Linked DNA regions of Homo sapiens. The protein of the gene in region 1 purifies or fractionates together with the protein of each later gene. This does not show direct contact. Each region holds a gene or a part of one and is shown on either strand. Other genes may lie near its edges. The genes, in order: GPR84, TUBGCP2 and REEP5.

Evidence for each region.
Region 2: the proteins of GPR84 (region 1) and TUBGCP2 purify together in Homo sapiens (affinity purification with mass spectrometry; one large-scale study listed by BioGRID and IntAct). This does not show direct contact.
Region 3: the proteins of GPR84 (region 1) and REEP5 purify together in Homo sapiens (affinity purification with mass spectrometry, with the first as the bait; one large-scale study listed by BioGRID). This does not show direct contact.

The regions. Positions count from the first base shown.
Region 1 is NC_000012.12:54,362,387-54,365,986, forward strand, and holds GPR84 (G-protein coupled receptor 84), read right to left. Parts: upstream 2,101-3,600; 5' UTR 2,007-2,100; intron 1,474-2,006; 5' UTR 1,466-1,473; coding exon 275-1,465; 3' UTR 59-274; downstream 1-58. UniProt on the Homo sapiens protein: G protein-coupled receptor that responds endogenously to dietary fatty acids or nutrient, specifically medium-chain free fatty acid (FFA) with carbon chain lengths of C9 to C14.
Region 2 is NC_000010.11:133,291,742-133,295,588, reverse strand, and holds part of TUBGCP2 (gamma-tubulin complex component 2), read left to right. Parts: intron 1-1,819; coding exon 1,820-2,027; intron 2,028-2,350; coding exon 2,351-2,550; intron 2,551-2,900; coding exon 2,901-3,090; intron 3,091-3,541; exon of another isoform or gene 3,542-3,847. UniProt on the Homo sapiens protein: Component of the gamma-tubulin ring complex (gTuRC) which mediates microtubule nucleation.
Region 3 is NC_000005.10:112,880,728-112,884,227, forward strand, and holds part of REEP5 (receptor expression-enhancing protein 5), read right to left. Parts: intron 1-3,500. UniProt on the Homo sapiens protein: Plays an essential role in heart function and development by regulating the organization and function of the sarcoplasmic reticulum in cardiomyocytes.

The DNA.
Region 1 (3,600 bases):
TGGCCCCTGAGCCTAACCGTGACCTGTTTCCTTCTTCCCCAGAGACCACACCTGAGCATTAAAAGCACAGAATTCATTTATTAATAATTAATAATACTCCTTGGGCAGTCTAGGGCTGAAACATTGATCAAGTGATGGAGAGACTTGATTTGGGAGGCTGGGGAGAGATTGTTGTGAAAATGCCCACATGTGTTATTTCACCTATTCTCCTATTACCTGGCCACTTTGGTCCTGGAGGAGACAGTCCTGAATTCTGGTGACTAGGGTCACAGTTCTAATGGAGCCTATGGAAACTCCGGGGCCCTCTTTTTAAAATGGAGCCATATGCTTGGCGGAATTGGCGGTTCATGGCTGCATAGAGCACAGGGTTGATGCAACCATTGAGCCAGGTGAGGTTGGCAGCAAGCATGTGGACCACCCGGGGAGCCTGGACTCTGGCATCCAGAATGTTGAGCAGCAAGAAGGGGATGTAGCTCAGGGCAAAGCAGAGGAACACAGCAAAACACATTCGAGTCACCTTCCCAAATTCCGATGAAGAATCCGGAGCTCTTCTGGCTCCTTTAATTGGCTGGGCTTTGGCAGATGCTTCTGGAGGGCTTTTCTCTGCCATCTGCTTAGCTCTCTTGCTGTTGATCTGGTCTCCCACTTCTGATGAGTCCCCTTCCAGGGTCTGGGTGGTGGCAGCACTGACTGGCTCAGATGAAATCCCCTCACTGGGTCCTCCTGATGCTAACCTGCTGTCCAGCTCCTGGAAACGACCAGGCATGGCCTCATCAGTCCTGGCCACATGGTTGGAGTGGATGCTTGCCTGTCGCAACTTGTATTGGTCCAGTGCCTGTGCTGCTCGTTTGACCTGGCGGTGGATGAGGCAATAGAAGATGCCAACACTGCTGAGCCCAAGCACAAAGTAGATGCCCATGAGGATGGTGGTGTAAGGCCGGCCTCGGATGCGGTCAAAGCTGCAGGTGCAGACTACAGGTACCAGGATATAAATAGGCCAGAGGGGAGCAAAGCTGGCCACGCCCACAACCCAGGTGCTCACCAGTGCCAGCACTATCCCCTTGGCACTGAAAACTTGGGGAAAAAGCTTAGGGTGGGCAATGAGGAGGTAGCGTCCCAGTGCGATGAGGCAGAGGGTCAGGATGGAGACAGAATTGGAGGCAAAAAGGAGGAGCCCAAATACCCTGCAGAAGGTGGCACCGGTGCGCCAGTGCAGGTGGAGGTAGGTGTCCACAGAGAAGGGCTGAAGGAGCGTGCAGTAGAGGAGATCAGCCAGTGTGAGGTTGGCTATGAGCAGGTTGAATCGGGTACGGAGCTTGGGCTGGATGGCCAAGGCCAGTAGGGTGAGCACATTGCCCACGGTGCCTGTCACAGCCACCACCACCCCCCAGCTAACTGCAACATAACGATAGCCCAGCACAGACTCATGGTAGCAGGAGAAGTTGGCGTCAGAGCTGTTCCACATGATAGAGGCTAAAGAGGCAGAGGGTGGAAGAGGAAGAGGGAATCAGAACCTAGCATTCAACTTAGATCTCTTGAACAGTTCTGGGACCCTGGACATCTAAACTGTTCCTGGACCTCACCTTAATTCAGTATCCTCCTGAACCATTCCCAGGCCTCTTCATCTCAAGATCCCTAACTCTCTCCTTAGGTTCTCTTAGTCCTTTCCCATTCTCAAATATTTCCCCAAGTTTTTATCTAAATATCTCTTGCCTAAATATCTTAGTCTTATTCTGCTCCAAACCTCAGTCCTCTTCTATATCCATCCCGCTGCTCTCAGTAAACCCAGTGCCCTCCAACTTTTTTAATTCCTTCCCCATCCCCAAAGACCCCCAGGAGTCCCCTCTCTCTATTCAGCATCGTGTATTCAGGATCCTCTCTGTATTCAGTTCCCTCTGCTCCTTTCCACTACACACACATATAGGCTTTAGTCATTTCTGTTTGTTACCACCTGGGAGATGAGGAGACCAAGAAGGTAAAAGTATACCCACAACAAAAGTGCTTACCTGAGTTTCTCAGCCTTCAATTCTTTCTATAATGGAAGAAGTTCAACTCACCCAAAGAGCAGTCCTTTCTGGTGGACAGTTAGGCTTCAAGCAGGAGACATCCTGCTCTTATGTATCCTATTATAGTCCACTGAAAGAATAAGAAACTCCCCCATTACCCAATCCCAGCCACTTCCTTCACCACCTCCGGTCCTACTCATTTTGCTTCGGCTAGTGAAATCTAGGCTTCTCTGTTGAAAGTCCCCCGCTACTTACCTCAGAGTGGTTTCACTCTTCCTTTCTCCTTCCTGAAACCCAAACTCTGTTTTCTTCCCCTCTTTGCATGGCAGAACTCATCTGTAAGATCATTGCCAAGAATTGCTAGGGCACGGAGTCAGAGCATCAGAACATTTGGGCCACTCCTCAAAGGGCCAAAAGATAAGACCAAGTTCCAGGAGCAACTTTAGGTACCCCCAGAAGCCTTGGGTTTGTTTCAGAGGAGCACTACCTTTCTTGTCTCCACGGCTTAGACATGGTTCAAGTCAGAGGGACCCATGTGACACCCTAGCACATTTGAGAAACCAAGTCAGATGAAGAAAAGTGGGGAATGAGGCATCCAGAATTCTGGTTTCATTCTCCTCAAGGGATCAGGGTCCTGTTCAATCATTCATTTATCCATTTACCCAACAACTTAGTACTGAGTGCCTACTATACACCAGACTCTGATCTAGACACTGGGGATACAAGAACGTCTGATATATGGCCTTGTGCATAGTCTACTAGGGGAGACAGATACATAAATATGCAAATGCTTAATCGATTCTCCAGAGCAAGGGTGAGTAAACTTCACCCTATGGGCCAAATCTAGTCTGCTGTTTTTGTATAGCCTGTGACCCAATCATGTTTTTTTTCCATTTAAAAATGGTTATATTTTAGGCCAGGTGCAGTGGCTCACGCCCATTATCCCAACATTTTGGGAGGCCAAGGAGGGCAGATCACTTGAGGTCAGGAGTTCGAGACCAGCCTGGCCAACATGGTAAAACCCCGTCTCTACTAAAAATACAAAAATTAGCCAGGCGTGATGGGTGCGCCTGTAATCCCAGCTACTAGGGAGGCTGAGGCAAGAGAATCGCTTGAACCCGGGAGGCGGAGGTTGCTTGCAGTTAGCCAAGATCACATTGCACCACTGCACTCCAGCCTGGATGACAGAGCAAGACTCCGTCTCAAAAAATAAAATAATAAATAAATAAGTAAGTAAAATAAAAATGGTTATATTTTAAATTGTTATATAAGTGCCTATGTAATATCCTCAGTTTTATCTCTTGATTAACACAGTTTAAAATATTTATAATCAGGCCCTTTGAGAAAAAGTTTGCTGAGGCTTGCTTTAAAATACTATATAGGCCTGGCTTGGAGGCTCATGCCTGTAATCCCAATGCTTTGGGAGGCTGAGCTGGGAGGATGACTTCAGGTCAGGAGTTTAAGACCAGCCTGGGCAACATAGTGAGACCCTGTCTTTACAATAAAAAAAAAAATAGCCAGCTGTGGTGATGTGCACCTGTAGTCCCAGCTACTGGGGAGGCTGAGGTGGGAGGATCATTTGAGTCTGGGAGGT
Region 2 (3,847 bases), on another chromosome or scaffold:
CTTTTCCCCACACCGGCACGGAGGAGCCACGTGTTCGGTGGTCGTTCGGACGTGGTGATTTGCAGGTGACATCGCAGGTGTTGAGATGACACTGAGGATGTTGAATATTGGGGAGGTGAAGCAACTGACTCTTTTTTTGCTTGAGACAGGGTCTCACTTCGTTGCCTAGGCTGGAGTGCAGTGGCACAATCTCAGCTCACTGCAGCCTCGACCTCCCAAGCTCAGGTGATTCTCCCACCTCAGCCTCCCGAGTAGCTGGGACTGCAGGTGTGCACCATCACACGCAGCTAATTTCTGTATTTTCAGTAGAGACGGGGATTCGCCGTGTTGCCCAGGCTGGTCTTGAACTCCTGGAGTCAAGCGATCTGTCCACCTTGGCCTCCTAAAGTGATGGGATTACAGGTGTGAGCCACCATACCCGGCCTAAAGCAACCCTTGAGGTCCCTCCACAGCCAGGCGGCTGGATCCACACTAACCCCCACCCCACGGCACCTCCACCCCACCGTGAGGCTTCTCCCCACAAGGGCATTGGCCGAGGCTTCGTGGCTGTGGATGAATGAGGCCAACATGGTGGAAAGTAAGTGATGCAGAGTCAGAGGCAGTTCCTGGAAGATGCACTCGCTGTTCCCAAAACGCCAAGCCACACCCACTCCTTTAGGGATGGTAGACATTGGGGTCTCGGTTTTATTGGTCATCCTGAGAAGGCCACTGGAGTAATAGAAAGAAATGGAATTTGAAGTTGAAAAGTGTAGATCTGCCAGCCTGGGCAACACGGCAAGACCCCACCTTTACAAAAAATTTAAAAATTAGCCAGGAATGGTGGCACGTGCCAGTGGTCCCAGCTCCGAGGGAGACTAAGGATACAGGATCGCTTGAGCCTGGGTGCTCAAGGCTGCAGTGAGCTGAGATTGCACCACTGCCCTCCAGACTGGGTGACAGAGTGAGATTTGTCTCAAAAATAAAAAAAGGAAAAAAAAAAAACAAGGACAGTGTGGATCTGCATCAGGATTGAGGCTTTCGCTGAAGGGCTTGCGTTGGTGACGGATTGTAGTCTTGAGGCCTGCAGTCACAGGACACTTCCCAGCAGATGTGTGAGGCTGACAGAGTGATTTTGTAAACCGAAAGCCTGTTGTACGGAGCCTTCCTGAGCTGCCAGGGCCTGGTTTGGGTATGGTCTGGCTGGCACGGGGCCCTGTCAGGCCCTCGTGGGGACAGTTTCAACATCCTGCTTTCGTCTGGTGCTCCTCCCGGCCCCCCAGGCATGGCCCGCCTGAGGCTGTGGACTGAGAACTTGGTCCTGGGACCTGAGGGGTTTGGTGGGTGGCGGCCCGTGGCCGTCCTCGTGAGGAAGCTTAGCTGTGTGTCCTGCAGCCGTCTCATCCTCTCTGGATAGAAATTATCAAGAGTTTCTTAACGTTTAAGTGATAGCTTTTTAAAGACAAGGTTTTTTGTCCCAGAGTAACTCAGACTTACCAAGTTGTACTTACCAATGTTGAAAGTGCAGCTTCTGCTGGAGTCGCCTTTTCAACTCCTAACTTCACCTTTTCAAATGTCAGCCATGTATCTGAGCATTGCGGAGCCGAGTGTGGTGAGATCTTGACACCAGCCACCACGCCTCCCAGGCCGGCCCCGTCCTGCGGCGGTTGGAACTCAGCCTGTGGCTCCCCAGTGGGGTCAGTCAAAGCCAAGTGCAGTGGCTGACCTTTTATACCCATAAACAAAGATGAGCAAGAGTGAGACTGACCCGCAGATGAGGGCACGTGGCTGTGGGGGCATGGGAGTGGGGGCTGCAGAGCCACAGCGCTGTCTGTGCCCGCAGGCACGTTGCCCCTGGCCTCGCAGGAGTCGGCCGTGGTGGAGGACCTGCTGTACGTGCTGGTGGGCGTGGACGGGAGGTACGTCAGTGCTCAGCCCCTGGCTGGGAGGCAGAGCCGGACCTTCCTCGTGGACCCCAACCTGGACCTGTCCATCAGGGAGCTGGTGCACAGGATCCTCCCAGTGGCCGCCAGCTACTCCGCTGTGACCAGGTGGGCACCGGGCGCGGTCCCTGGGAGCCTGCGCTGTTGTGGGGGAGGGGTTAGGTCCCATCCTGATGACCATGGGGACGTCTGCATCGCTTCTAAAGAGAGCGCCCGCCTTGGTGACAACTCCGTGCCCAACTCAGTTTTGGAGGGTCTGTGAGTCACCATCCAGGGTCCTGACTCATCTCCTCCTGGGGCAAAAGTTCCCCTCTGGGATGTGGGGTTCAAGTGAGTCATTTGCTTCCTGTTTGGGATGAGACTCAGAATATCGGACATTGTATGTGCCTGCAGCTTGCCTTTTTGAGGAAGTCTGACAGCTTTTCTTCCAGGTTCATTGAAGAGAAGTCTTCCTTCGAGTACGGGCAGGTGAACCACGCCCTGGCGGCCGCCATGCGCACCCTGGTGAAGGAGCACCTGATTCTGGTGTCACAGCTGGAGCAGCTGCACAGGCAGGGCCTCCTTTCGCTGCAGAAGCTCTGGTTCTACATCCAGCCAGCCATGCGCACCATGGACATCCTGGCCTCCCTCGGTGCGTGCCCGCCCGGGGGGCATGGGGCAGTGGTGGGTGGCAGGTGTTGAACATGGCACCCAGTGTGAGGAGAGACTCTGCAGGGGCCGTGGAGCAGCTGCCCAGGGCAGGGGCGTGTGGCCAAAGCTCATGTTGCTCCATGTGCTATTAACTTGCAAGAGGAAAGCCCTGGAAGCTCTTACTGGTCAGCTGAAATCAGCAACTACAACCTTACAGTTAATACGTATCCCAAAGAAGCAGCACCGTCCCAGGAAGAAGGTTGGAGAAGCATGAGGGGCCCCAGCAGTGTTGTTGGCAGAGGCTGGGCGTGCGCTTCCTTCTCAGCAGTGAGCCCTCCTTTCTCCCCACAGCCACCTCGGTGGACAAAGGCGAATGTCTTGGGGGGTCCACGCTGAGCCTGCTCCACGACAGGAGCTTCAGCTACACAGGGGACAGCCAGGCGCAGGAGCTATGCCTGTACCTAACCAAGGCGGCCAGTGCTCCCTACTTCGAGGTTCTGGAGAAGTGGATCTACAGGGGCATCATCCACGACCCATACAGGTAGGGCTCCCCGGGACACGGGGACACGGAGGGACACGGGGACACGGAGGGACATGGGGGACACGGAGTGTGCATGCTGCCCTCTCCCGTACAGGTAGGGCTCCCCGGGACACGGGGACACGGGGGACACGGAGGGACACGGGGGACACGGAGTGTGCATGCTGCCCTCTCCCGTACAGGTAGGGCTCCCCGGGACACGGGGACATGGGGGACACGGAGGGACACGGGGGACACGGAGTGTGCATGCTGCCCTCTCCCGTACAGGTAGGGCTCCCCGGGACACGGGGACATGGGGGACACGGAGGGACACGGGGGACACGGAGTGTGCATGCTGCCCTCTCCCGTACAGGTAGGGCTCCCCGGGACACGGGGACATGGGGGACATGGGGGACACGGAGGGACACGGAGGGACACGGAGGGACACGGGGGACACGGAGGGACATGGGGGACACGGAGGGACACGGAGGGACACAGAGGGACATGGGGGACACGGAGGGTGCGTGCTGCCCTCTCCCGTACAGGTAGGGCTCCCCGGGACACGGGGACACGGAGGGACACGGAGGGACATGGGGGACACGGAGGGACATGGGGGACACGGACGGTGCATGCTGCCCTCTCCCGTACAGGTAGGGCTCCCCGGGACACAGGGACACGGAGGGACATGGGGGACACGGAGGGACATGGGGGACACGGAGGGCGCGTGCTGCCCTCTCCCGTACAGGTAGGGCTCCCCGGGACACGGGGACACGGAGGGACA
Region 3 (3,500 bases), on another chromosome or scaffold:
AGAACCAAGAGGCTAAGAAATGTGGGTGAAGTAGACAGAAATGACATCACCACAGGTTGCTGATTAGGCTAAGGGAAGGGAGAAGAAAAGAAAGCTCTTAAAAATAAGCTGGTAATCCTGGCTGGGCATGGTGGCTCATGCCTGTAATCCCAGCATTTTGAGAGGCCGAGGTGGGTGGATCACTTGAGGCCAGGAGTTTGAAACCAGCCTGGCCAACATGGCATAACGGTGTCTCTACTAAAAATACAAGTATCAGCTGGGCGTGGTGGCCCACACCTGTAATCACAGCTACTTGGGAGGCTGAGGCAGCAGAATCCCTTGAACCTGGAAGGTGGAGGCTGCAGTGAGCTGAGATCATGCTACTGCACTCCAGCCTGGGCAACAGAGTGAGACTCTGTTTCAAAAAAAAAAAAAAAAAAAAAAAGCTGGCAATCCTAAAGTGGGAGGAGGTTAAGGCTACAAGTTAAAAAATACCTAAAACATATTCAAGTAGACTGGATTTGTATGCCCAAAAATAGGAGTCCAGAGAAGAGAGGTCTGTGAGGGAGAAATGGGGAACATACCACTTCTGGGGCATCAGTGCTGCTGGAGAACTGTCTTGGGATTTTACTTCCCCATGGTCAGGCAACCTCACAACTCCCATGTCTAACTACCACAGAGCTCTAAAACACAAAAACCTTTCTCCAATTTCTAAAATCTGAGTCCCTCTGGAACTCAAGACCCATCACTGGCAAAATCTATATCCTCATCCATTCCTCCGAATGTTTCCTTTACCTTCTTGCTCTTAGAGAAAGCTGGCTGTGCCCTGAGGACACTGCTTTCTCAAGTGGTGGCTGTTTCTTTCCTCTCATGACCCTAGTACAAATGGATCTGGTAGGTGTTGTTTTTGTTCTTCATTGCCACTTTCAGAATCTCATGTCATCAGATTCTATCACTGAGTAGCCTTCCCTTTCCCTGTCATCCCTGACTCTTGGGCTACTTTGCCTTAGTTCTTGAAGATTTTAGCTCCTAACTTAATGTTCCTTTCTAACACTACTCCTATTATTTATTTATTTAGAGACAGGGTCTCACTCTGTCACCCAGGCTGGAATGCAGTGATGCCATCTCAGCTCACTGCAGCCTCAACCTCCAGGCTCAGGTGATCCTCCCATCTCAGCCTCCTGAGTAGCTGGGACTACTGGTACGCATCACCACATCTGGCTAATTTTTGTGTTTTTTTTTTTTTGTAGAGACTGGGTTTCACCATGTTACTCAGGCTGGTCTCAAACACCTGAGCTCAAGCAATCCACCCACCTTGACCTCTGGAAGTGCTGTGATTACAGGTGTGAGCACTGCACCTGACCTACTACTCCTATTTTAATTATTGATGATTTTAATATCCATGTAGACATATGTGATGATCTTCTAATATCCTGACCTCTTAGTTCCTCCCCTCCAATAACCCTTATATTCCACCCTACATATGGCACTGACTCCCAGGATCCCTGTTAGTACCAATACTGCAGTCCCTCCATAATCTTGTATCAAGCATCCCACTCAGCCACCATCACCTTTTATCTTTGTAGTGCACTCCCCACCCTGCTTTTTTGCTCATTGTAGATGATGATGGAGTATTCCCGCTATTATCCTGATTCAGAGTTCTTCCACCACCACTTCCCACCTTACTCAGGTTAAATTCCATTGTCAAGCATTAACCACTCCACAGTCCCACCCTCACTTCATAGTTCTTGCTGGAAATCACAACCTTGACACAACTCTCCACCTACTCTGTAGCTATACCCATGTAGCTGAGTATGGCTGGAGAAAAACATAAACAAGAACTGGTTTCACTATAAATTCATGAACGCAAATCTCAAGCATGCCTTTAACACTGCCTGACAGTCCATTTACTCTCCAACTGTCCTAGAGGGGCCAGCACACTGCAGCCAAACTCGCTTATGTAGTGTCCATGGCTGTTTTCACACTACAATGGCAGAGAAGAGTAGCTGCAACAGAGACATGATAGCCCACGAAATTTAAAACATTTGTTATCTGGCCCTTTACAGAAAAAGATGAGCAGTCCCTCTCCTTCGCAACTATTTCATACCTTCTCTTTCCATTGTCTCCTTCCCCATCCTCTCTCAATTGGCCTTCCTACTTTACTGAGAAATATGAAACAATTAGAAAGTCACTTCTGTAGGCTCCCATAGTCACATGTGCTCACAGCATACCATAAAACCTGATTTCCCTGCTGTTACCATAAACTTCCAGCTCTTCGACCAATCCCTCTACTGTATACTGGATCCTTCACTGGTCAAGGACAGAGCTCCAACAATTCACCCTCTCACTCCTATCATCATTTTTTGCTCTGTTGAATTATTCCCATTAATTTTCAAACAGGCTTTGTTTCTCCTACCTTAAGAAAAAAACTTTTAAAATTTCAGGACCATAATTCCTTCTTCCAGTTATAGCCCCATTCTTCTGCTCTCCTTTGCAGGAAATTTCTCAAAAGAAAGATCTATATTCTCTCATCCCTTTTCTCTCATTCTCTCAAATCCATTGCAATCAGGAGTTTGATATCACTCCACAAAATCTGTGTTATCAAAATCACTAGTACCTTCCTCATTGCTAAATCTGCTCAGTTCTCAGTCCTTATCTTACTTGACCTGTTGACAGCATGTAACATGACAGATCACTTCTCCTCTCTGAAAGAAAAACTTTCTGTTCTTGGCCCCAGGGATACCACACGCTCATGGTTTTCTTGCTACCTCAATTGGCCACTCCTTATCAGTCTGCTTTGCTAGTTGCTTCTCATCTCTCCAGTCTCTAAACCTTAGACTCCCCAGCGTTCAGTCTTTGGACCTCCTGTTTCCTAACTACACTACCTTCGTGATCTCATCTAGTCTCATGCTTAATATGTATAAGCTTGTGGCCCCCAAATTTATATCTCCAGTCCAGACCTGTTTCTTGAACTCTTGACACCTGTATCCAACTAGCTATTTGACTAATCCTTGTAGGTATCTAACAAACAGACACCTCAAACAAATGTCCAGGACTAAATTCCATATCCTCCCACCCACCACAACCTCCCACCCCAACAAAACCTGTTCTACCCAGTCTTCTCCAGCTCAGTGGCAATTTTATCCTTCCATCTGTTCAGGCTAAAAAGCTCGTCCTTGTCCTTAACCCCTCTGACCCATGCCCAATCCATAAGCCAATCCATAAGCAAATCCCATTACTTCTACCTTTGAAATATATCAAGAATCTGATACTTCTTACCCCCTACTGCTACACAAGGAACCAAGCCACCATCATCACCTCCAGCCAGATCACTGCAAGAACCTTTTAACTGTTCTCCCAACTTCCTGCCTTACCCCTTCAGTCTGTTCCTAATACAGTGGCCACAGGCATCTTATTAAAACACAGGACAGATCATTTTGCTTCTGTGGTTAAAAGTCCCCAGTACCTCCACATCTCACATAGAGTAGAAGCCAAACCTTTACAATGGCCTATAAGGCATT